3 separate regions of the Homo sapiens genome follow, and regions 2 and 3 are each reported to be linked to region 1. Evidence: microRNA targets listed by miRTarBase, many of them from high-throughput screens and not tested one by one. Region 1 holds a microRNA gene; each other region holds the end of a gene's coding sequence. Distances are between the middles of the regions.
Evidence for each region. The annotated mature microRNA hsa-miR-4424 reads AGAGUUAACUCAAAAUGGACUA and lies in region 1 at 3,112-3,133, opposite strand. An mRNA with a match to its seed (bases 2 to 7 or 8) in the 3' UTR can be bound and repressed. Matches are read on the target gene's strand: a 7mer-m8 pairs with bases 2 to 8, a 7mer-A1 pairs with bases 2 to 7 and ends in A, and an 8mer does both.

Region 1 (7,071 bases):
ATCGCCAGAATACCTGTATCAGCTGTGAAACAATGGTAACGACAAAGGAAGCAAATGTTTTTGCTTCTCTGTCTACAATGCTGCGTTTCAATTAAAAAGTTACAACTTTACACTGTATTTCTTTTTCTTTTTCTTTCTTTCTTTTTTTTTTTGAGACAGAGTTTCGCTATTGTTGCCCAGGCTGGAGGGCAACGGCGCGATCTCAGCTCACCACAACCTCCGCCTCCCGGGTTCAAGCGATTCTCCTGCCTCAGCCTCCCAAGTAGCTGGGATTACAGGTGTGCCACCACGCCCAGCTAATTTTGTATTTTTAGTAGAGACGGGGTTTCTCCATGTTGGTCAGGTCTCAAACTCCCGACCTCAGGTGATCCACCCACCTTGGCCTCCCAAAGTGCTGGGATTACAGGCGTGAGCCACCACGCCCAGCCTGTATTTCTTTTTTTTAGGTGAGAAGAAACATCAAAAGAAGTTGAAGGACCAGGAAGTGGGTCCTCTAGGGATGAGGGGGCATCTGCTGGCTTTTTAAAGTGTTTCCTCCAGATTAATCTGCTTCATTGACCATGGTTTTTGCCTTAGAAGTCTCTCTTGATTTTATAAACAGACATGATTTCTTGTTCTATTATGAATGCACACTGCTCAAATCCTTCAATAAGCTCATCACACATTTGCACCATGTCATCTGTAGGCACTTTTTCTGCAGTGTTAACAACATCATCTTCGTCATCACTATGATCACAATCACCTTGATTCAGAACCATTTTCGCTATTTTACCATAAATCTGTGAATGAACAACTGGAGCCTCGGTATTGATGTTAAAAAGTCTTCAATATTCACTTCTTCCAGCTTACTTAGAGACTCCAAAAGTATATTTTTTGCATATGTAAGGAGGTCAGGCATCATTTTATTCTAACTTGACATATGGAATCCTTTAGAGTCACCATCTTGTTTATCATCATCACTGAACATAGTTGTAGGACACAGGTTATGCCAGGCCAGTGACTTTAGTCACTGTGTGCCAAGCATTGCAAAAGCATATATAGTATACATAGCTAAACTCCTTTTGAAAACCTTCCACACCCACACCTCTGTCCACTGCTGTTAGAATGCTGTTTAAGAAAGTGTTTTTATATTTACTCTTATCTAAGAATTCCCTGGTCATGTGGTTGAAATAATGGAGTCACATTTGGGGGAAAGTACGTGGCATAAACATTATTTTTGGTGAGAATTTCAGCTGGCGGATGAGAATGAGCATAACAGTTGTCAAGGAATAATGAAATCTTCCAATTGCCATCCAGCCCAGCTTCCCAGCAGTGAGCACATGCCACTGGTACAAAATGTTTGTGAAATCAATCAGAAAAGATATTCCTGGTGATCCATGCCTTTTTCTTAATATAATCATAGATTGGTATGAAATTCACTTTTTGGAAACAGTGAGGATGCAAGCTTTTCCCTACCTCAGCAAGTTTACACTTATGTAACTTATGCATACATGCTGCATTGGAACATCCCAGCATAGTTATTCTGTCCTTGGCATCCTTAATTCCTGTAGGAGCTGTCCGATTAGCAGTGGTCAGTGTCTTTCTGGGGCAACAATGCCAAAATAGCGATGTCTCATTAGCATTATTGCTATAGTTTGGATGTTTGTCCCCTCCAAATCTTATGTTGAAGTTTGATCACCAGTGTTGGAGGTGGGAACTAATGGGAGGTGTTTGAATCGGGCAGTGTGGGGCGGGGGTTTGCAGATCCCTGGTAAATAGATTCATGGCTTCCCTGAGGGGAGGAGGCATGAGTGGGTTCTCACTCTATTAGAGAGAGCTGATTGTTAAAAAGAGCCTGGGACCTCCCCAACCCCTGCTTCTTCTCTTGCCATGTGATTTCTGCACAAGATGGCTCTCGCTTCACTTTCCACTATGAGTGGAAGCAATCTGAGGGCCTCACCAGAAGCAGATGCTGGCACCGTATTTTTTGTGCAGCCTGAAGACCCATGAGCCAAATAAACCTCTTTACTTTGTAAATTCCCCAGCCTCAGGCATTCCTTTATAGCAACACAAAATGTACTTAGACAATTACAAGCTTGTTCTGGCATCAGATTTTCATCAGTGATGACCTTGACAAATTCATCAATGAATTTCTCTACTGCTTTGTGATGAGCAGATGCTTTACCACAAAAAAACTTCAAAAATTTAATACCATATCTTTTTAAAAATTTCTGCAACCAGCCTATTGAATATTCACAGCTCCCTCCAATTTTCAGTTCACTGTGATAGATGTTTGCTTGTTTCATGATCAGCATACCATTAAGTGGCATGTGTTCACTGCAATGCTGACAGATCCACTCTTTCAATACATAATCGAGATCTTCATTTTTAGCTTTATGCTTTTCCATTTTTCATAACTTCTATTCATCACTTTAAGCATAGAACTTCAACAGCTTATCCTTCTGTTTCTTCAGGTCTTATATGGTGGCCATTCCAACACAATACTCTTCTATAAGACATTTCACACTTACACTGCTGTCCAGTTTCTCCAATAGCTTGACTTTCTTTCTTTCTTTTTTGTTGAAACAGAGTATCTCTCTGTCTCTCAGACTGGAGTGTGCAATGGCGCGATCTCTGCTCACTGCAACCCTCACCTCCCAGGTTCAAGCAATCCTCCCCTCTCAGCCTCCCAAGTAGCTAGGATTACAGGTGTGCATCACCATACCTGGATACTTTTTTTTTTTTTTGGATTTTTAGTAGAAACATCATTTCACCATGTTGGCTGGGCTGATCTTGAACTCCTAACTTCAAGTGATCTGCCCACCTTGGTCTCCCAAAGTGCTAGGATTATAGGTGTGAGCCACTGTGCCTGGCCTGCAACCTCCTTCTCCCAGGCTCAAGCCATCCTCCCACCTCAGCTTCCCACCATCATGCCTTACAAATTTTTGTAATTTTTTTTTTTTTTTTGATGGAGTCTTGCTCTGTCACCCAGGCTGGAGTGCATTGGTGTGATCTTGGCTCACTGCAACCTCCACCTCCCAGGTTCAAGTGATTCTCCTACCTCAGCCTCCAGAGTTTCTAGACTACATCACACACAGAGTTAACTTGAAATGGACTAACTAGTGGAAAAATTAGTCCATTTTGAGTTAACTCTGTGTGTGATGTAAGATAATGGTCCAATTTCATTATTTTGCATGAGAATATTCAGTTTTCCTCATGCCATTTATTGAAGAGATGATCCTTTCCCTATTATGTATTCTTAGTGCCTTTATTAAAGATTAGTTGACTATATATGCATGTAGTTTTTCCTGGGCTCTCTATTGGTCTATGTGTCTGTTTTTATGCCATTGCCATACTGTTGATTCCTATAGTTTTGTAATATTATTTGAAATCAAGAAATGTGTGCCTCTACCTTTGTTCTCTTTGGCCATTCGGGGTCTTTCATGGTTCCACATAAATATTCAGATAGTTTTTTTCTATTTCTGTGAAAAATGTCATTGGAATTTCATTGAGATTGCATTGAATCTGTAGAGCACTTTGGGTAGTATGGCTATCTTAACAATATGAATTCTTCCAGTCCGTGAACACAGAATTTCTATCTTTCCATTTTATTTGTGTCTTCTTTCATTTCTGTCATCAATGTCATAATTTTCCGTGTACAAATCTTTCACTTCCTTGGTTTAAGTATTTTATTTTTTCTCATGCTATTGTAAATGGGATTGTTTTCTTCTTTTTCAGATAGTTTGTTATTAGTGTATAGAAATGCAACTGATTTTTGTATGATGATTTTGTATCCTGGCACTTTACTGAATTTTAAAATTATTTCCAACAGTTGTTTTGGAGGAGTCTTTAGGGTCTGCCACATATAAGATCATGTCATCTGCAAACAGAGACAATTTCACTTCTTCCTTTCCTATTTGGATGGCTGTTACTTCTTTTTCTTGCTTAATTGCTCTGGCTAGAACTTCCAGTACTATGTTAAATAGAAGTAGCGAGAGTAGGCATCCTTGTCTTGTTCTTGATCTTAGAAAGGAAGCTATCAGTTTTCCACCAGTGAATATGATGTTACCTGTGTGTTTGTAATATATGGCCTTTATTATGTTGAGGTACCTTCCTTCTATACCTAATTTGTAGAGAATTTTTATCATAAAAGGATGTTAAATGCTTTCTCTGCATCAATTGAGATGATCATATGATTTTTACCTTTATCCTGTTAATGTGGTTTATTACATTTATTGATTTGTGTATGTTGAACCATCCGTACATACCAAGGATAAATTCCACTTGATCATAGTGTATGCTCCTTTTAATGTGCTGTTGAATTCAGCCAGTTAATATATATTTTTTTAATTTAACATTTTTTTTTGAGACAGAGTCTCACTCTGTCACCCGGGCTGGAGGGCCATTGTGCAATCTCAGCTCACTGCAACCTCTGCCTCCCGGGTTTAAGTGATTCTTGTGCCTCAACCTCCCAAGTAGCTGGGACTTCAGGCATACATCACCTTGCCCAGCCAATTTTTGTTTTGTTTTGCTTTTTGAGACAGAGTCTTGCTCTGCCACCCAGGCTGGAATGTAGTGATGCAATCTCGGCTCACTGCAGTCTCCGCCTCCTGGGCTCAAGCTATTCTCATGCTTCAGCCTCCCAAGTAGCTGGGATTACAGATGTGCACCACCACACCCAGCTAACTTTTCTAATTTTAGTAGAGACATGGTTTCACCATATTGGCCAGGCTAGTCTCAAACTCCTGACTTCAGGTGATCCACCCACCTCGGCCTCCCAAAGTGCTGGGATTACAGGTGGGAGTCACCGCACCTGGCCCAATTTTTGTATTTTCAGTAAAGACCGGGTTTCACTATGTTGGCCAGGCTGGTCTAAACTCTTGGCCTCAAGTGATCTGCCCACCTTGGCATCCCCAAGTGAGCCACTGTGCCTGGCCTCAGCCTGCAAAAATTTTATTGAGAATTTTTCCATCTGTGTTCAGTATAAGCCTGTAAGTTTCTTTTCTTTTAGTGTTCTTATCTAACTTTGATGCAAGGGTAATACTGGCCTTGTAAAAAGAGTTTGGAAATGTTCCTCCCTCTTGATTTTTTTTTTTAGAAAAGTTTTAGAAGAATTGGTGTTTATTCTTCTCTGTTTGGTGGAATCCACCTAATCTTTTGTATTTTTGTGGTATCAGTTGTAACTATTCTTTTGTCATTTCTGATTGTAATTTTTTGAGTCATCTTTCTTTTTTTCTTGGTTAGTTTACTAAAGGTTTGTCAATTTTGTTTATCTTTTTAAAAAATCAACTCTTAGTTTCTTTGATCTTTTAAATTGTCTTTCTGTTCTCTATTTCATTTACTTCTGCTCTAATTTTTGTTATTTTTCTCCCTTCTGCTAACTTTGGGCTTAGTTTGTCTTTTTTTTTTTTTGAGACAGAGTCTCACTCTGTTGCACAGGCTAGAGTAAAGTCGCACAGTCTCAGCTCACTGCAGCCTCTGCCTCCTGGCTTCAAGGAATTCTCCTGCCTCAGCCTCCTGAGGGTGCCTGCCACCAGGCCTGGCTAATTTTTGTATTTTTAGTAGGGATGGGGTTTCACCATGTTGGCCATGAACTCCTGACCTCAAGTGATCTGCCCACCTCGACCTCCCAAACTGCTGGGGTTACAGGCATGAGCCACTGCACCTGGCTGTGAGATCTTTCTTTTTAAAATTTAGGTATTTATCTCTATAAATTCCTCTGTTAGAACTGCTTTTGTTGCATCCCATGTTTGGTATGTTATGTTTCTATTTCTGTTGGTTTGAAGACAGTTTTTTAAATCTTCTTTGACCCACTGGTTGTTCAAGAGCATGTTGTTTAATTTCTATTAATACTATTTGTGAATTTTCCAATTTTCCTTGTTATTAATTTATAGTTCTATATTATTGATTTCAGGAAAGATACTTGATGTGATTTCAATCTTCTTTAATTTGTTAAGACTTGTGCTATGGCCTAATATATGATCTATCCTAGAGAATATTCCATTGCTCTTGAGAAAAATGTGAAATCTGCTGCTGTTGAGTGGAATGTTCCATGTGTGTCTGTTAGGTCCATTTGGTTTATAGCATTATTCAAGTCTACTGTTTCCTTATTGATTTTTTGTCTGAATGATCTATCCATTGTTGAAAGTGGCATATGGCCAGGCATGGTGGCTCATGCCTGTAATCCCAGCACTTTGAGAGGCCGAGGCAAGCAGATCACCTGAGGTCAGGAATTTGAGACCAGCCTGGCCAACATGGTGAAACCCTGTCTCTACTAAAAATACCAAAATTAGCTGGGCATGGTGGCACAATTCTGTAATCCCAGCTACTTGGGAGGCTGAGGCATGAGAATTGCTTGAATTCGGGAGGCCGAGGTTACAGTGAGCTGAGATCACACCACTGCACTCCAGCCTGGGTGACAGAGCAAGACTCTGTCTCAAAATAAAAAATTAAAAAAAAAAAACAAAAAACAGTGGCATACTGAATTCTCCTATTATTGTATTGCTATCTATTTCTCTCTTTAGTCTTGTTAATATTTCCTTTATGTGTTTAGGTTCTCTGACATTGGGTGCATATATATTTATAATTTTTATATTCTCTTGATGAATTGACTCCTTTATCATTGTTTAATGACCTTCTTGGTTTCTTGTGACAGATTTTGACTGAAAGTCTATTTTGGCTGATATAAGTATAGCCACTTCTGCTCTCTTTTGGTTACTATTTGCAAAGGATATATTTTCCCATCCATTCACTTTTAGCCTATGTAGGCTAAAGTGAGTCTATTGTAGTCAGTATATTATTGGTCTTGTTTTATTTTTTAATTTTTTTTTTTATTTTTTGAGATGGAGTTTTGCTCTTGTTGCCCAGGCTGGAGTACAATGGCATGATCTCGGCTCACTGCAACCTCCGCTTCCCGGGTTCAAGCCATTCTCCTGCCTCAGTCTCCTGAGTAGCTGGGATTACAGGCATGTGCCACCACGCCCAGCTAATTTTGTATTTTTAGTAGAGATGGGGTTTCTCCATGTTGGTCAGGCTGGTCTCAAACTCCTGACATCAGGTGATCCGCCTGCCTTGGCCTACCAAAGTGCTGGG
Region 2 (7,071 bases), 64 Mb from region 1:
TGCCATCACTATCCCATCACTGTAATATATTGATGTTTTCTGTGTGCTCATGATTTAAAATTAAAACTCCTCCTTCATACCCTTTTATACCCTTTTGAAGAAAGGAAATATAGTAAACAGCAATCAATGGAAATACCAACTATGTATTGGCAAGAACTTGAGGTATTATCATATGGGAAGGTAGAGGGAGTGGAGGGGAGAAGTTATATGTGAGATAAAATCCTTCATCTGCCATAATAAGAAGTGAAGTAGATAATGTCTAAAATTGATGATCAGGAAATAGCAGTATAAGCATATTATTTAGAATTACAGAATTAAATACCAAAAGAAATAGATAAAAGTGTTAAAAGTGGTTGCATTTGGGGTACAAAGCCAAAGAACTGCTTGTATAAGCCTTGTAGTCTTGATTTCTTAAAAGCTATGTTTATGTCATATTTTGATTAGAATAGGAATATGTTACAAAAAAAGTTCGGGGTATTAGTGTGCTCATAAAATTGTTAAGGAAAAACATTTCAACTTTGAGAGGCTGAGGTAAGTGAATTGCTTGAGCCCAAGAGTTCAAGAGCAGCTTGGGCAACATGGCGGAACCCTGTCTTTACAAAAAATACAGAAAATTAGCCAGGTGTGGTGGTGCACACCTGTAATCCCAGGTACTCAGAGGCTGAGGTGTGAGGATCACCTGAACCTGGGAAGTCAAGGCTGCAGTGAGCCACGATCATGCATGCCACTGCACTCCAACCGAGTGACAGAGTGAGACCCTGTCTCAAAAAAAAAAAAAAAAAAGCAAAGCATTTCAGTGAATGGTTTGAATGCTGCTTATTACAAGGTGCTGTCCTGGGGCCTTTGAGAAATACCAGAGAGAAAAAAACAGATACCTGCCCAGAGTCTAGTGGAAGGGATAACCCTAGTATTATATGATATTAAATAATATGTAAATGCTAGGAGACAGATACAAATACCGAAGGAAGCACTTCATGTGGTAGAAGATTCGTCGACCACAGGCTCTAATCTCTTAGTTACTCTAGCTGGGACTTCCGCACATCTTGGTGAAGCTAAAAATGCTTTGGTTTACCAGAGTTTTCTGCAGAGGATAAGGATGAAGAGCAGAAGCTACCCTCTCTAGAAATCAAAGGTAGTGACAGGTCCCAAGTAGGAATTAGGAGCTAGTGAAATGATAGCATGACCTTCTATTTATCCCCGATTTACCTCACTTACGGAAACAGCCCTAAGGAAATGTGGGGCAAATTCTACCTTAATACTTCAAGTAGAAAATACACGACCACCAGATTCAGACCCCAGCAATACCACATCCAAGTTGTCTGAATTTGGACAACTTTTAGGAATTTTGTGAGCCAGAGTATCCTCATCTGAAATATATGGATGTAGGCAATGATACCTACCCTACAGATTATTGTGAGATAACATATACAGGGCACCCAAGTAGTACCCAGCTACATGCTCAATAAGTAATTTCTTTCCCCCTTTCCTTCCATTTCTCTAGAACTGTAAGATATCCAGGAGAGGAGATTAATCAGAGTGAAACGATTATTAGGAATTTTTTAAATAAAAGAAATAATAGTAAAACTGTGGGAACCAAGAAGAATATAACAGTGAATTCCTTAAATGGAGAGGACCTTGTTTTTTGTTTCTCCTTTGTAATCCTAACACTTGGTATATAGAAATTACTCAGTAAATTACTACTACAAAAGAGTATCATTGCCTACATCCTACATGTAAATGTTTGTTAAATGAATAAAGTAGTATTTAAGGAAATTCTCAACTAGTGGATTTTTTGTTTCCATAAATTTTTTAAAATTAAAATAATGTTTTCTGCTCCTGGCTCAAAATAATGTGTTGTTGTAATGCAGTTGGACAGTAAAAATACCAGAAATAAACATGCCTTTTTTTTTCCAGCTTGAAAATAAGGAACTTCGAGAATTATTGTCCATCAGCAGTGAGTCTCTTCAAGCCAGAAAGGAAAACTCAATGGACACTGCTTCCCAAGCCATCAAATAACTGAACTCTGAATGATGGCTGGAGATTGTCTATCAAGGAAGGAAGTTACTGTCTTCCCATTCAAGTACTGTCCATTAAGTGTCTTGCCTCAGATTTGATTTAATCTTAATTAAAGGTATCAGGTGGCAATTTAGAATTCCAGTCAATATTGGCTGTCCACAGTTCTCAGATGTGTTAATGTGAATACTACATGCTGAATTTCACCATTCCTTTCTCAAAGAGACTACTTTTAATTTTCATTTCTGGGACCTTGATTTATATAAACTATGTTTTCAGTTCTTTGTTATTTTTCACATCTCTGAAACTTTGAGCATTTTTTATAAGCCAGCAATTTATTTTACATAGCATTGTAAAATACACTTCTAGGAAATTTTAGGAAAGATTTAACTGTTTAAATCTATTTGGCATAAACCTTGATTTTTTTTTTCCATTTGACAAAAATAATACAATTCCACAGAACTAGATCAGCAGATTCTCTGATTTGTAATGTCATTCACCTGTGACATTTTAAGTCTCTCTGGTGCTAAGAATTGGCACTTTATAGCCTGGTGCCTTTACTTTTAATTTGAGAGAACCTACTGCTAGTCCCAGGAAACACACTTGGAAATAAGTCAGCTATTTTTTTTGCCCAGTGATGCTATAGTTGTCATATTGTCCAAAGTTCATATTGTTCAAAGCTGAGGAGCTTGTCCTGTGTATGTGAATGCACACATGTGCACTTAGTTCAAATACTAAAAGTAGCTTTTATTAAATATAATCAGCCAAAAACACACACAAAATAAAAAAAACAAATATAAGTAGTCAGTTTTTCAATGTTATCCTACTAGTTCTACATTCTATTTTAATTTTTATACAATTTCCATTTTATAGTTAAGAACCATCACTTACTTGGATTGGATGTCTTTCATTCCTAGCACTAATAGTTGGCTTTCTTTTTTTTTGTTTACATAGAAGCAGGGTTTTTTTTTATCTTTTTTCTTTTTTTTTGTTTAAGCTATATAAAAAGGTGAGGAAGCAGTTTTGTTACCTAATGAAAATTATTACACTCATAATGCTGTGTAGGCAACATTGAGATTCAAATGCCCAGTGGTCAACTGGGTTCACTCATCAACTCATTCCCGTCCCAGTTTACTCACATTTCAAATTTATAAATTTCTTCATGTTATACTATTCTATTTAGATTTGCCCAGAATTAGTTGAAATAATGCTAAACCTGTCAATATTTTCCAGTAACATTAAGCACCATACTGCATGGGAGAGACACAGTACTAAAAAGAGTTGTTAGTGCTTTATGTGAGTGATATTTCTTTCGTAATGCTATAAAGAACTACAGTTAAAATAACAAAATATTTTAAAGATGTCCTAAAAGCATCTGATCCCAGTAATAACTAATGGATGTCATCTAGAGCAGTGGGTGTTAATGAATAGGTATATGTCATTTAAGAATTTTTCAAATTTCTGTTTGATATCCTGCATAGAATTTGACAAAAAAAACACTTCCAAGTGTGAGCATTTTTTATTTCATTTCCCAAGAGTAAGTAAGTAACTATTAGCCCAGCCATCTGCCTCGAAGTATACCTTAAGTGACCCCATAAATCCATTCAAGAGGCAGGTACTCTATACCATTTGGCAGCCACGGCCAAACCTACCATGGCCAGATTTCAGTGAAAATGATGAAGTAATCAAATCAAGGTATAATATGGTGTCCCTTTATGTGCTTTATGTTCCTTTAGAGCTGTTTATAAAGTTCTTTATATCTCAAGTGTTAGGATAAATCGACATACTAACTTTTCCCCCTGCAAAATTAAAAGCCTGAGGTACAAGTCTAAGAAGCTTTTAGTGCTCTACATAATATAAATTCTGGCTGGTGTTAATGCTATGAAGATAATATGTAGTTAGAAAATTGAGTCGGGGAGGAATGCTCTTCATTTTAAGTGGATTTTAAAGTTTCTCCTTGAGTGGATGAAGAACTTGCCTGGTTTGCAAAAATCTTAGTTCAAAATTATATTTTCTAACAAAAACTGCATTTTGAGAAGATAAGCTAATTTTACTCAGTAGTAAGTCAAATGAGGAAGTGCAGAGGGTTTTTTTACATATATATAGCAACCTTGTCAAGTGGTCCTCACAAGAGTCATAAATACTTTGTAATTAGCACAGTATATTCAGCAGTGTATAACTCTACAAATAGTACCTTATATTAGTGTAGTATTATATCAATATCTTATGTATAATTCTTATATTAATACCTTATGCATAATTGGATTCAAACATTGAAGGTCTATTTTAGTGTTCTTCAAAATGTGCTTCCCTGACCTACTGAAATAGAAACTTGGTGATGAAGTTCAAGAATTTGTATTCTAATCATCTCAAACAATTCCTAAAGACACTGATTTTAAAATATCTAGTCTAGGCCCCATTGTGTAATAGTTAGCACTCTAAAAGATGAAAAAGAAAATAGTCTATGTGCCAACCACTTCATTAGTACTTATGAATTTAAAAATGAAAAAGTCTGGTACAGGAGACAAGTATATATATAAAATTATAATGCAGTGTGATAAATCCATTATAGTATGTATAAGATACAGAAGAGGGACTTTAAACTTGAGAATTCAATAGAGATAATAAATGGGTAGGAGGGAAATAGAAAACTTTGGTGCCACAAAAGCAAAGTATGTATGGTATTGCCAATAATAGCTACCATCTATTGAGTGCTTTACTACCTGTCAGGTACTGTATTATATAAACTCCATTTTAACTGTACCTCATTTTGCAGATACTCAGGCACAAGGAGGTGGTTATTTGTCCAAACTGGAACCAAGATTCAAACCCAGACAGAGTCTTAAGCACATTTTTAATCACTAACTAACTTGAGATGCCTAAATGCCAAATACTGTTGGGAGTTCAAGTGGTTCTTGATTAGCAAAATCTATTTTTATTAGTGCAAAAGAAACACCACAGCTTATAAAGTATTATGAATTCAATAAATGGAGTCTTAACTAATGAGATATTATTTTCTAGAATGGTGTAGCTGAGAGTATGTGTGATTCAACTGAAAGGAATAATGTTTAATCAGTGACTCTTACTATATACAGGAAAAGGTGCAGTTCTGTCTTTCAAATCTGCCTCCTTACCATATTGGCTTACATCCCTCATGCTGTTTTCTTGTGTTTGCTAGAAAGTTGTTGCCAAGCCAAATGTCATGGCCATGTTGAAGGCAAGGAAGAAAAAATGGAAATGGCCTGTGCCAGCTATATATATCGCCTTTTATGAGGGAAAGCAAAGCTTTCTCAGAAATCCCAAATGGATTTTCCCTTGACTTAATTGCCTGACCAGTTAAATGGCCACTGGTACCTGCAAAGAAAGCAGGGTACATAGCTGTCCCAAATAAAATCAGTATTAGCAAGAAGAAAGAATATTGAGAAAGCAATTAACAGTGTCTGTGACTGTGACATGTCTGTGACTTTATATTGTCAAGTCCTTTCCCCTTGAATATAGTTTTGGAAGAATTAGCTGAAGGAGTGTGTTGACATTGAATGGCCAAGAGAATGGGCTGTAGCAGACATCTGTCATTTCTCTTTTGGCTGCCCAGTATCCTAACTCCTGTGTTTAAGGAATCCCTCACCTAATGAGGCAGAGCATTTCTTCCTCCTAAAGAATTTGAAAGTACCAGGTAATGTTTTCTCAGCCTCCTTTTGCAGCTAAGGAAGAAACATCTGCCTTCAATTTTAAAATTAGTGATACAAAGAAGGAGGGAACCATGCAGATTCCTTTGAAGATGGTGATTAACAACACTACTGCATTCATCTCCACAGAGGTACAGCAAAAGTGATTTAGTTAGCGATAACCTCTAATTCTATTTTTTTATTTTTATTTTTTGAGACAGTCTTGCTCTGTCAACCAGGCTGGAGTGCAGTAGCACTGTCTTAACTCACTGCAACCTCCACCTCCTGGGTTCAAGCGATTCTCCTGCCTCAGCCTCCCAAGTCGCTGGGATTACAAGTGCCCACCACCATGCACAGCTAATTTTTGTGTTTTTAGTAGATGGGGTTTCTCCATGTTGGCCAGGCTGGTCTCGAACTTATGACTTCAGGTGATCCGCCCGCCTTGGCCTCCCAAAGTGCTGGGATTATAGGCGTGAGCCACTGTGCCTGGCCTGTAACCTCTAATTCTTGTTTGCTGGCTGTCCTAGAGATCCTGAGAATTACTTTTAATAAAATCATTTTTTTGCTGTTATTAAAACTAACCTGAATTGCCTAAAACCAAGAACTCTGCTTGATAAAATAAGCATAGTTTTAGGAACAGCCATGCAGATATAAATTTTATCAACACTTTATACATAATTTGGGACTTATATTTAAATGTAATATTTGATGCTTATAAAAGGGTAAATGGGGAATGCAAATAAATTATCAAGCATAATAACTCATCACCTAACTTAAGAATAACATTATGAGTGCTTGTATTTTATCTATTTGAGCTCTTCTCCTATCTTTGCCGACCCCCCCGCTCTCTTTTTAATAGATTTGTTCGAATGTAGAAAGACCTAAAATACATATGTATCCCTAAAGTGACTTATTTTATAGTTTTCTTTCTTTTTGAACTTCAAAAAAATTGTATCATACTCTATGTAGTCTAAGGATTTGGTTTTTTTCACTCAACATGTCTCTAGAATTCACAAGTTTTATTGTTTTATAGCTGTCATTTTCATTGATGTATATTTCATTGTTGGGTTATACAACATATTGTTAAGGAATACATACATATATAATAAATTATACATTTTTTAAAAAAATCCTTGCTAATATTTTACTTACTAATTTTTAATTCTCCCTTCCTGTGTCTCATTTATATTAAACACATTTAACTATAAGATGACGTATTTCACATTCTGCAGTTATTTCACTGATAATATCTCATGGCAACTTTCAGAGTGAATTAAGGGGTATTATCTGCTAATATAGGAAAAAGCAGATAATGCTTTTTGTTTTGTCACTCCTGTAATGCTGAAGAGGAGGCAGAACCTTCAGAGTTTCAATTAGCTACAACTTCACTCAA
Region 3 (7,071 bases), not on the chromosome of region 1:
ACCCAGTGTGTCCAGAAGGCAGGACATCAAGTCCAAGATTATTCTCAAGCCTTATTAAGGCTTAACATTGTTTGCCCCACTGGGTTAGGACCTGTCAGTAACACTCCTTTCTTCCTGTTGTTCCCTTTTGGAATGGGAATGTCTATTCTATGCATGTCCTACCATCGTATTGTGGAAGCACCTAACTTGTTTGATTTCACAGGCTCACATGTGGAGGAGAACTTGTCTCAGGATGAATCGTATCTTGAAACTCATCCATATCTGATTTGGATGATGATATTCAGACCAGACTCTGGACTTAGACTTCTGAATTGACACTGGGATGAGCTAAGACTTTTGGGGCTATTAGGATGAAATCAGTGTATTTTGCATGTGAGAAGGACATAAATTTTAGGGAGCCAGGAAGTATCTGTGTCCCTCCAAAGTTCATTATGTTGAAACCTCATTCCCAATGCAATAGTATTCAGAGGTGAGACCTTAAGGAGGTGATTAGGTCATGAAGGCACAGCCCTCATGAATGAGACTTGTGCCCTTATAATAGAGCCCTATGAGCTTATTCACCCCTTCTGCCATGTCATGACACACCAAGAAGGTGTCATCTATGAGGAAAAGGGCCCTCACCAGACACTGAATCTGCCAGTGCCTTGATCTTGGATTTCTGAGCCTCTAGAACTGTGAGCAATAGATGTATATTGTTTACAAATTACCCAGTCTCAGGTATTTATTTTATCATAGCAGCCTGAACAAATTAAGACAGGCTAGTAAGAAAAGGTAGAGTTTAAGGAAAGGTAACTTTGATTTTAGACAATTTTTAAAGGTAAGACTAGAACTTAGAGATAACTAATTGGGAATCATACAGAGCAGCAGGCACGGTGGAAACACAGAGGAGAGGGGTACAGAGAGAGCAGAGGAGATGCCTCAGGGGACAGCCAAGGTCTCCAGGGCTAGGAGGGAGGAAGAGTTAGCAAGGTTAATGGAAGAGCTGCGGTCTTGAGTGATGGTGGTTATGGAAACAGCATCATTTCTCCATTCATTAGTGCAAAGTGCTCTATTTTCTCAGTATAGATTTCAGACTAAATCTAAAGAACCTATATTCAAAGACATCCATAAAAAAGACTACACAGTACACTGTCAAGTAAGAACGACAAAGGGTTCACTGGGTTTTTAATAGTCAAGGCTGGTACTAGACTGCAGACCCCAGGGAATGCTTTTCATGGCTGTATTAATGTATCAAGTTCTAAGTCAACAAATTGGCAGTTGCAATGACTTTTTTAACCAGAAATAATTATTAATGGGAAAAGCAAGTTTCCAACATCCCTATCCTTCCCACATTATGACTTCCATTGACAGTGATTTTTAAATATATAATTACTCAGAAAATGGATTAAAACCAGATTATTCACTGTCCGACACCAAATTTTTTCAGTGATGTTAAAAATTCTCTTTTTGGATAGTAATTTCCATCACTTGGAAAATAAAAGCCAAATACAGTATGATCAATCAAGAGTGTTGCTGGTCGCACTGAAAACTGTGAATCCAGGGGAGATACATGCCTTCTGGCTGGAGTTCCTCCCCAGAAACAAGGGGCAAGACCAGTACTAACAGCAGGAAAATGAAATTTCAACCCACAAGGCCCTCTGTGGTCAGGTGCCACCCAGTCCCAAGTAGTCAGTCTCTAAATGCTGAGACCTCTGAGAAGGCAGGAACTTTCTGGAACTATTGTGTTCATTTTAAACTTACAGATTCTGCTGGCTTGCATTTTATTTTATACTAACTTGCCTACTATCCCTTTAAACTGCCTGTTCTCTCCCTCATCTCTCTTTAAACGAAAAATAATATCCTATAAAACAGAGCAGACAGACAGCTGTGCACTACTGCGTAATCCATCTTTCTAAAATCCTCACACTTGACACAGAAGCCAACTCTCATTTTAGATGCTTGGAAATAGAATCAAGAGCAAATTCTAGCATTCTGGGTGGCTAGGTTGAAAGTACACATGGCAGTTCTCAGAAGGGTGATGGGGCCAGCGTCAAGAAATGCTCTGTTCTTACCGATCACACCCTTCATCCAGATCTTGACAATCACACAAACAAGTAGCCACGTGGTTCTTTTCCCCATTCCGATCTATGTACTCGCAGCAGCACAGGGGCTCCAATTCAGGTTCTTCGGTTTTCTTTTTCTTCACAGGCTTCATACTGCCCTTCTGTGTCATGATTTGCACCTGTCACCATGAGGCGTAAGAAGCCCTCAGAAGGTAAAGGTGGAAAGAACACAACTTACATCTCGTAAATAGGTCCACGCCTCTCTCTCTCTGCTTAACCTCCAACGCCTGAGCAATCAAAAATGAGAAGAGAGAGGGGGAGGGGGTCCCGTTTTCATCAGGCTTCTGTGGCTCCGCCTGGCCACACAGGGGGCTCCAGGGTTCTTGGAGGTCTGAGCTGCCTTCACCGCCCCTTCCCAGCCTGGGCAGGCGCCGTCTGGGCACCAGCCGTTCCTATGGCGACAGCCGACCACGCGTCCGGGACAGCCGGGGCGCGGGCGGTTGCGCTCACCTGCGGGTGCAGGCTGGGAGGGCCGAGCGGTCTCCGCTCCAAGCCTGGGCGCTGGTGGGAACTCAGCCTCGGGGCTATAGGGAAAGGCGAAGCATATGCCCGCTAGCAGCGGCTGACACACCAGGCTCCCTGGCAGTGCTCAGGGGTCGCGGTCCAGCCCAACTGGTCGGGCCCCTTGCAGGGTGCGCCTCTCCCGCCCCCGCCAATCCGGAGGACGTGGGCGGGCCTCGCGCACCACCCCGCCAGGAGAATGACCTTGGAAGGGAAGTTACCTGCCCTCTGGCCGGAGGTGCAACTGCAGCCAAAGAGGCGGAGGGGAGATGGGTCGGCTTCCCCGGAGGCACAGACGCGTCTCCCGATCTCTGCTACGCGGAGCCCCGGGCGTGACGGCAGGAGTCTCCGGGACCCGGGCTCCGCTCGGCCGCTCCCTCGCCGCAGCCGCCCACCTGTGACCACAGCCCGCCGCGGCCCGGGCGGCGCGCCCGCCTCCCCGCGCCGTCCCAACCGCCCCTCCGCCCGCCCGGCTCGGTGCGCCAGGTCCACGCGCGCTTCCGGGTGCCCCGCCCCCGGCGCCGGGGTTCCCCGCCTGTCCGCACGTGCGCCGCCCGCCTCCCCGCGGTGCCCGCGGGCGAGGCTCCTCCTCCTGGCCCGCGGCCCTGGCGCCGGGAAGGGGAAAATCGGCTCCCGAGAGCGCGTCCAGGAGGCAGGGGCAGGAGGTGGGTCCCGCACCTCCGGCCTGCCCCGCCACGCCACGCCCCGCCCCGCCCCAGAGGCGGCAGCCGGGCGCCGCCGGTGCCTGCGGGCGGCGCGCCGGTGGGACAGCCTCCGGAGCCCCGGGGTGCGGACGAGGTGCGGAGACGGAAATACGGGAAACCCGGGAACCCGGAGGATTTCCGAACTACGTGAGACCGTGGAGCCGCCAGCCTTCATTCAGACTCCGGCAACAGGCGGTGAGGGAGCTTTCCACCGCAAAATGTTATCCAAGTACCTCCCCCAGTTTCGCTGACCTTCTCTTAAAGGCCCATCACTGCTGCCGGATCTGTTCATTTAGCAACCTGTTCGTTTCATGATTTCTGGCTAGCAGCCTTTACATTGGACCAGCAGGCCTCGCTAGTACTTTTGTTCCAGTCGTCTGTGTATTTGAGATGAAACTGCCCTGAGATGAGAGTCCTTTTTGGGTTTTATTATTGCACAAAATTTCTTTAAAGAGTGTGGGCCCATGTACACGTTTCACTACCGCAGGCTTTCTAGTTTTGTTTTTAAGTAGAAAAAGAAGAAAAACTACAACTCAGAAATTTTCAATTTTATTAATATTCAATTTACGTAACAGGCTCAAATTTTATTAATTGAATTCTGCATCCATACGAATTTAGTCTTAATTTATAAAGCAACTTACTTCGATACTCTTCCTTGAAGTATGTTATAAAATACAACGTTTAAATAAACATCACAAAAATATTGTTTGTCGATCATTTTTGTGACTTTAACAGAGAAATCTTCAAGTTTATAATCCACTCATTCTTGCTTACAGCCAGACACTACATAAATCCTTACCAAAACAAAACAAACCCAGGTAGGTTCACTGTTACCCCTAGGTATGCTTCGTTGGAATTCACCCAGAGAAACCCATTTTCCCTCTAACGGAGTCAATACTTTCATTCTCTACAGGCATCTCAAAAATGACTATAATAATGCCATGTGGCTTTGGGGACTCTGGAGAAAAATGAAACATTTAATTAAAGGCAATAGTTGTTCAAACAGTAAGAATGTATACACAGTTTATATATAGATAGATAGATGGATATGTATTTTTTCCCCAGAGAAAGGGCTCAAGAGACAAAACAGTAAAACACTTCAACTTTCCCTAACTCTTGAAAAAATATCTGATTTTAAGTCAGTTTACAAAGTTCTTATTTTAATGAGCCACTTGTATGGAGACACATATGCATAAAAACTTTTTATGAAAGAGCCAAAGCTTGCATCTGAGTTAAAACTTGATAGTCAGTACACTTGTACTGGGACATACGTGCCCCTGAAGTTTTTATTAAAGAGCTAAAATCTATGTCTGGCTTATAACTTACCAATCAAAACAAGTCACACACATACATAAAGAAGGAAGCCATACATGGTTACTGAAAATACACAAATTATTTTCAACCAGATGTGTCACTTCCACCATGAAAGACTGCTAAGCTGAAGCCAATCTTAGTTCAAGTATGCATTTGATCTGTCACTAAATGCCCAGATTTTAACATAACCTTCTGGTTTTTAAAACTCAGAGGATGGTTCTTCCTTTTGACTGTTGGTATTCTAAGTGAGGAGGCAAGATAATCCCACCTCTGATAGTTACCTTAAGAAAAAACAACTATTTCTTTCATAAAGATACAGCATGGCAGAAGACCCTTTCTGATAATCATCATCAACATGCAGATTCAAAAAGTTTGACTATTAAATTTGCATGCTAAATAAATGAAGACATTATAATCTTTACAGTACACAAACCTGGAAATGTTATATGCCTGAAAACAGAACCTTTAAAATCAGTAATGACATAGAGGTTTCTTCTTATATTGTCCTGTTTATCCTCTTGGTCTTATCTCAGTTACAAAAGCGACCTATTGGACATGTACGGATTCTGTGCTAACAAAGCATCAGACTTCACTGTAGAAATGAGACCATACCACTCAATTCAGGGTGTGTCATTTTCTTTTTGTATCAGAGAAATTCAGTTCTATAATATATTTCATGGTTCACTGAAGAAATTCACAGCTTAAAAATATCTATAAGAAGTGAAAGGATGGATTATTAAGGCCAGCAGAAACTAATTATCAAATAAATGTTACTGAAAGAAATGTTCATATTAGAAATCTCAATAATGAAAAAACATAGAAATGTTCTATGCCAAAATCCTTCATTCGTCTGGTTTTCTTCCAGGTATTTTCTTTAAGTTCCAAGTATCTCTGCGGTTTTAGTCCTTCAGATCACTAGCTTTCAACAGCCATGCCAGTCTTATTCTTATTTAGTAGATCAAACGTTTTCTGAAGCATAATGAGTGAGCTCTTCAGCTGTAAACAAAGTTAATTTTCAAAATCAGATTAATTTTTCTAATCAGATTTGAAAATTTCTGTTTTTTATGCCCAAAATTTACAGTGACACTTAATATAGTTTTGTTTATACTGATGCCCAAATAAAACGTTAAATACAAAATACCTGATTCTTTGGGGTATCTATCAGTATGATTGCTACAGAGTTCTTCCCATTTGCTGGAGTATTGTACTTCTTCCTACTGCTACATAGTCTACCTCCCAATAGGTCCATTAATCAAATTAAGCGTAGTGACAGACTCGTTTTCCTAAAAGATTTCTGAAGTTGCAGTGGTCTCCTCACTATCCCCTAAACAACTCAAGTTTGCTTCAGTGCCTTTGCATGCTCTCATCCTCATGTTCTTCACCTAAAACTTACTCATATTCACACTCTTCATGTAGTTTTCCCCAGTCATTCTGCCTATAAACTCCCAAAGCATTATCCTTACTACTTAACACTTTGACACTGAATTTTGTAATCTTTGTCATTAACAATACACCTGGACATCTCATTTCTCTAAGAAAATTGTGTGCAACTCAAGAGCAGGAATTATGTCTTACTCTTTTTTTGTATTCATTCAACAAATATTTGTTGCTTGCCTATCACATGTTGGGCAGTGTTCTAAGCACTGGATATACAATGGAGAACCAAATAGGCACTGTCCTGTCCTTCATGGAGCTTACAGACTAGTCAGGGATCCAGAACTATTAATAAAACAAATAATCACATACATAAATATATACTTAGATATTTTATTAAGTTTTTGACTTGAGCAGCTGGTGGATGGTAGCATCATTTTCTGAAATGAGACCCACTAGAGAATTAGGTTTTGGATTAGAGGAAAATTGACTTCTGTTTTGGACATAATCAGTTTGGGAATCCTGTTAGTCATCCAGGTGAAGATGCCAAGTAGGCAAGTGACTGTATGAGTCTAGAGCTCAGGTCGAGGTGAGAGATACGGACTTGGGAGTTGCTGCTATCTGAACATTTGTGTCCCCTTCAAAATTCACGTTCAAACTGAATCCCCAATGCAACAGCATGAAGAGACGTGGCCTCTGGGAGGTGATTAGGTCATGACGGCTCCTATGAATGGATTAGTGCTCTTATAAAAGAGCTTCAGGGAACTAAATAGTCCCCTTTTTTGTCCTTCAGTCCCTTCTGCCAGGTGGACACCAAACATGCCAGAACCTTAATCTTGGACTCCTCAGCCTCAGAACTGTGAGCAATAAATTTCTGTTCTTTATAAATTACCCAGTCTCCAGGATTTTGTTATAGTAGCACAAATGGACTAAGACAGGAGTCATTGGAACGTGTGGTTATTTAAAGTTAGGGGTGTGAATAAGATCACCTAAAGGGAGAGTAATAGAGAAGGAAAGAGAATCTAACACAGAGCCCTGGAGCATTTGGGCCAGGAGGAAGTCAGGCAGAGGAGATA

Region 2: the mRNA of SIKE1 is a reported target of hsa-miR-4424. Seed matches in the 3' UTR shown: 8mer at 5,940-5,947 and 7mer-A1 at 6,436-6,442.
Region 3: miRTarBase lists GRAMD1C as a target of hsa-miR-4424. Seed matches in the 3' UTR shown: 8mer at 4,536-4,543.

The regions. Positions count from the first base shown.
Region 1 is chr1:178,673,825-178,680,895 of GRCh38, reverse strand. It overlaps MIR4424 (microRNA 4424), which reads right to left and starts at 3,147; the gene lies at 3,062-3,147.
Region 2 is chr1:114,769,216-114,776,286 of GRCh38, reverse strand. SIKE1 (suppressor of IKBKE 1) reads left to right here. Exons shown (of 5, transcript NM_025073.3): 5 at 1,915-6,808. The coding sequence ends at 2,016. Among named protein-coding and RNA genes, the nearest start is that of SIKE1, 7.9 kb to the left of the region's middle.
Region 3 is chr3:113,943,944-113,951,014 of GRCh38, reverse strand. It overlaps GRAMD1C (GRAM domain containing 1C), which reads right to left. Exons shown (of 18, transcript NM_017577.5): 18 at 3,841-5,617. The coding sequence ends at 5,537. ZDHHC23 (zDHHC palmitoyltransferase 23) reads right to left here and starts at 3,002. Exons shown (of 5, transcript NM_001320466.2): 1 at 2,825-3,002; 2 at 2,052-2,329. The coding sequence starts at 2,212. RefSeq lists silencers at 2,420-2,519, 2,870-3,369 and an enhancer at 3,084-3,584.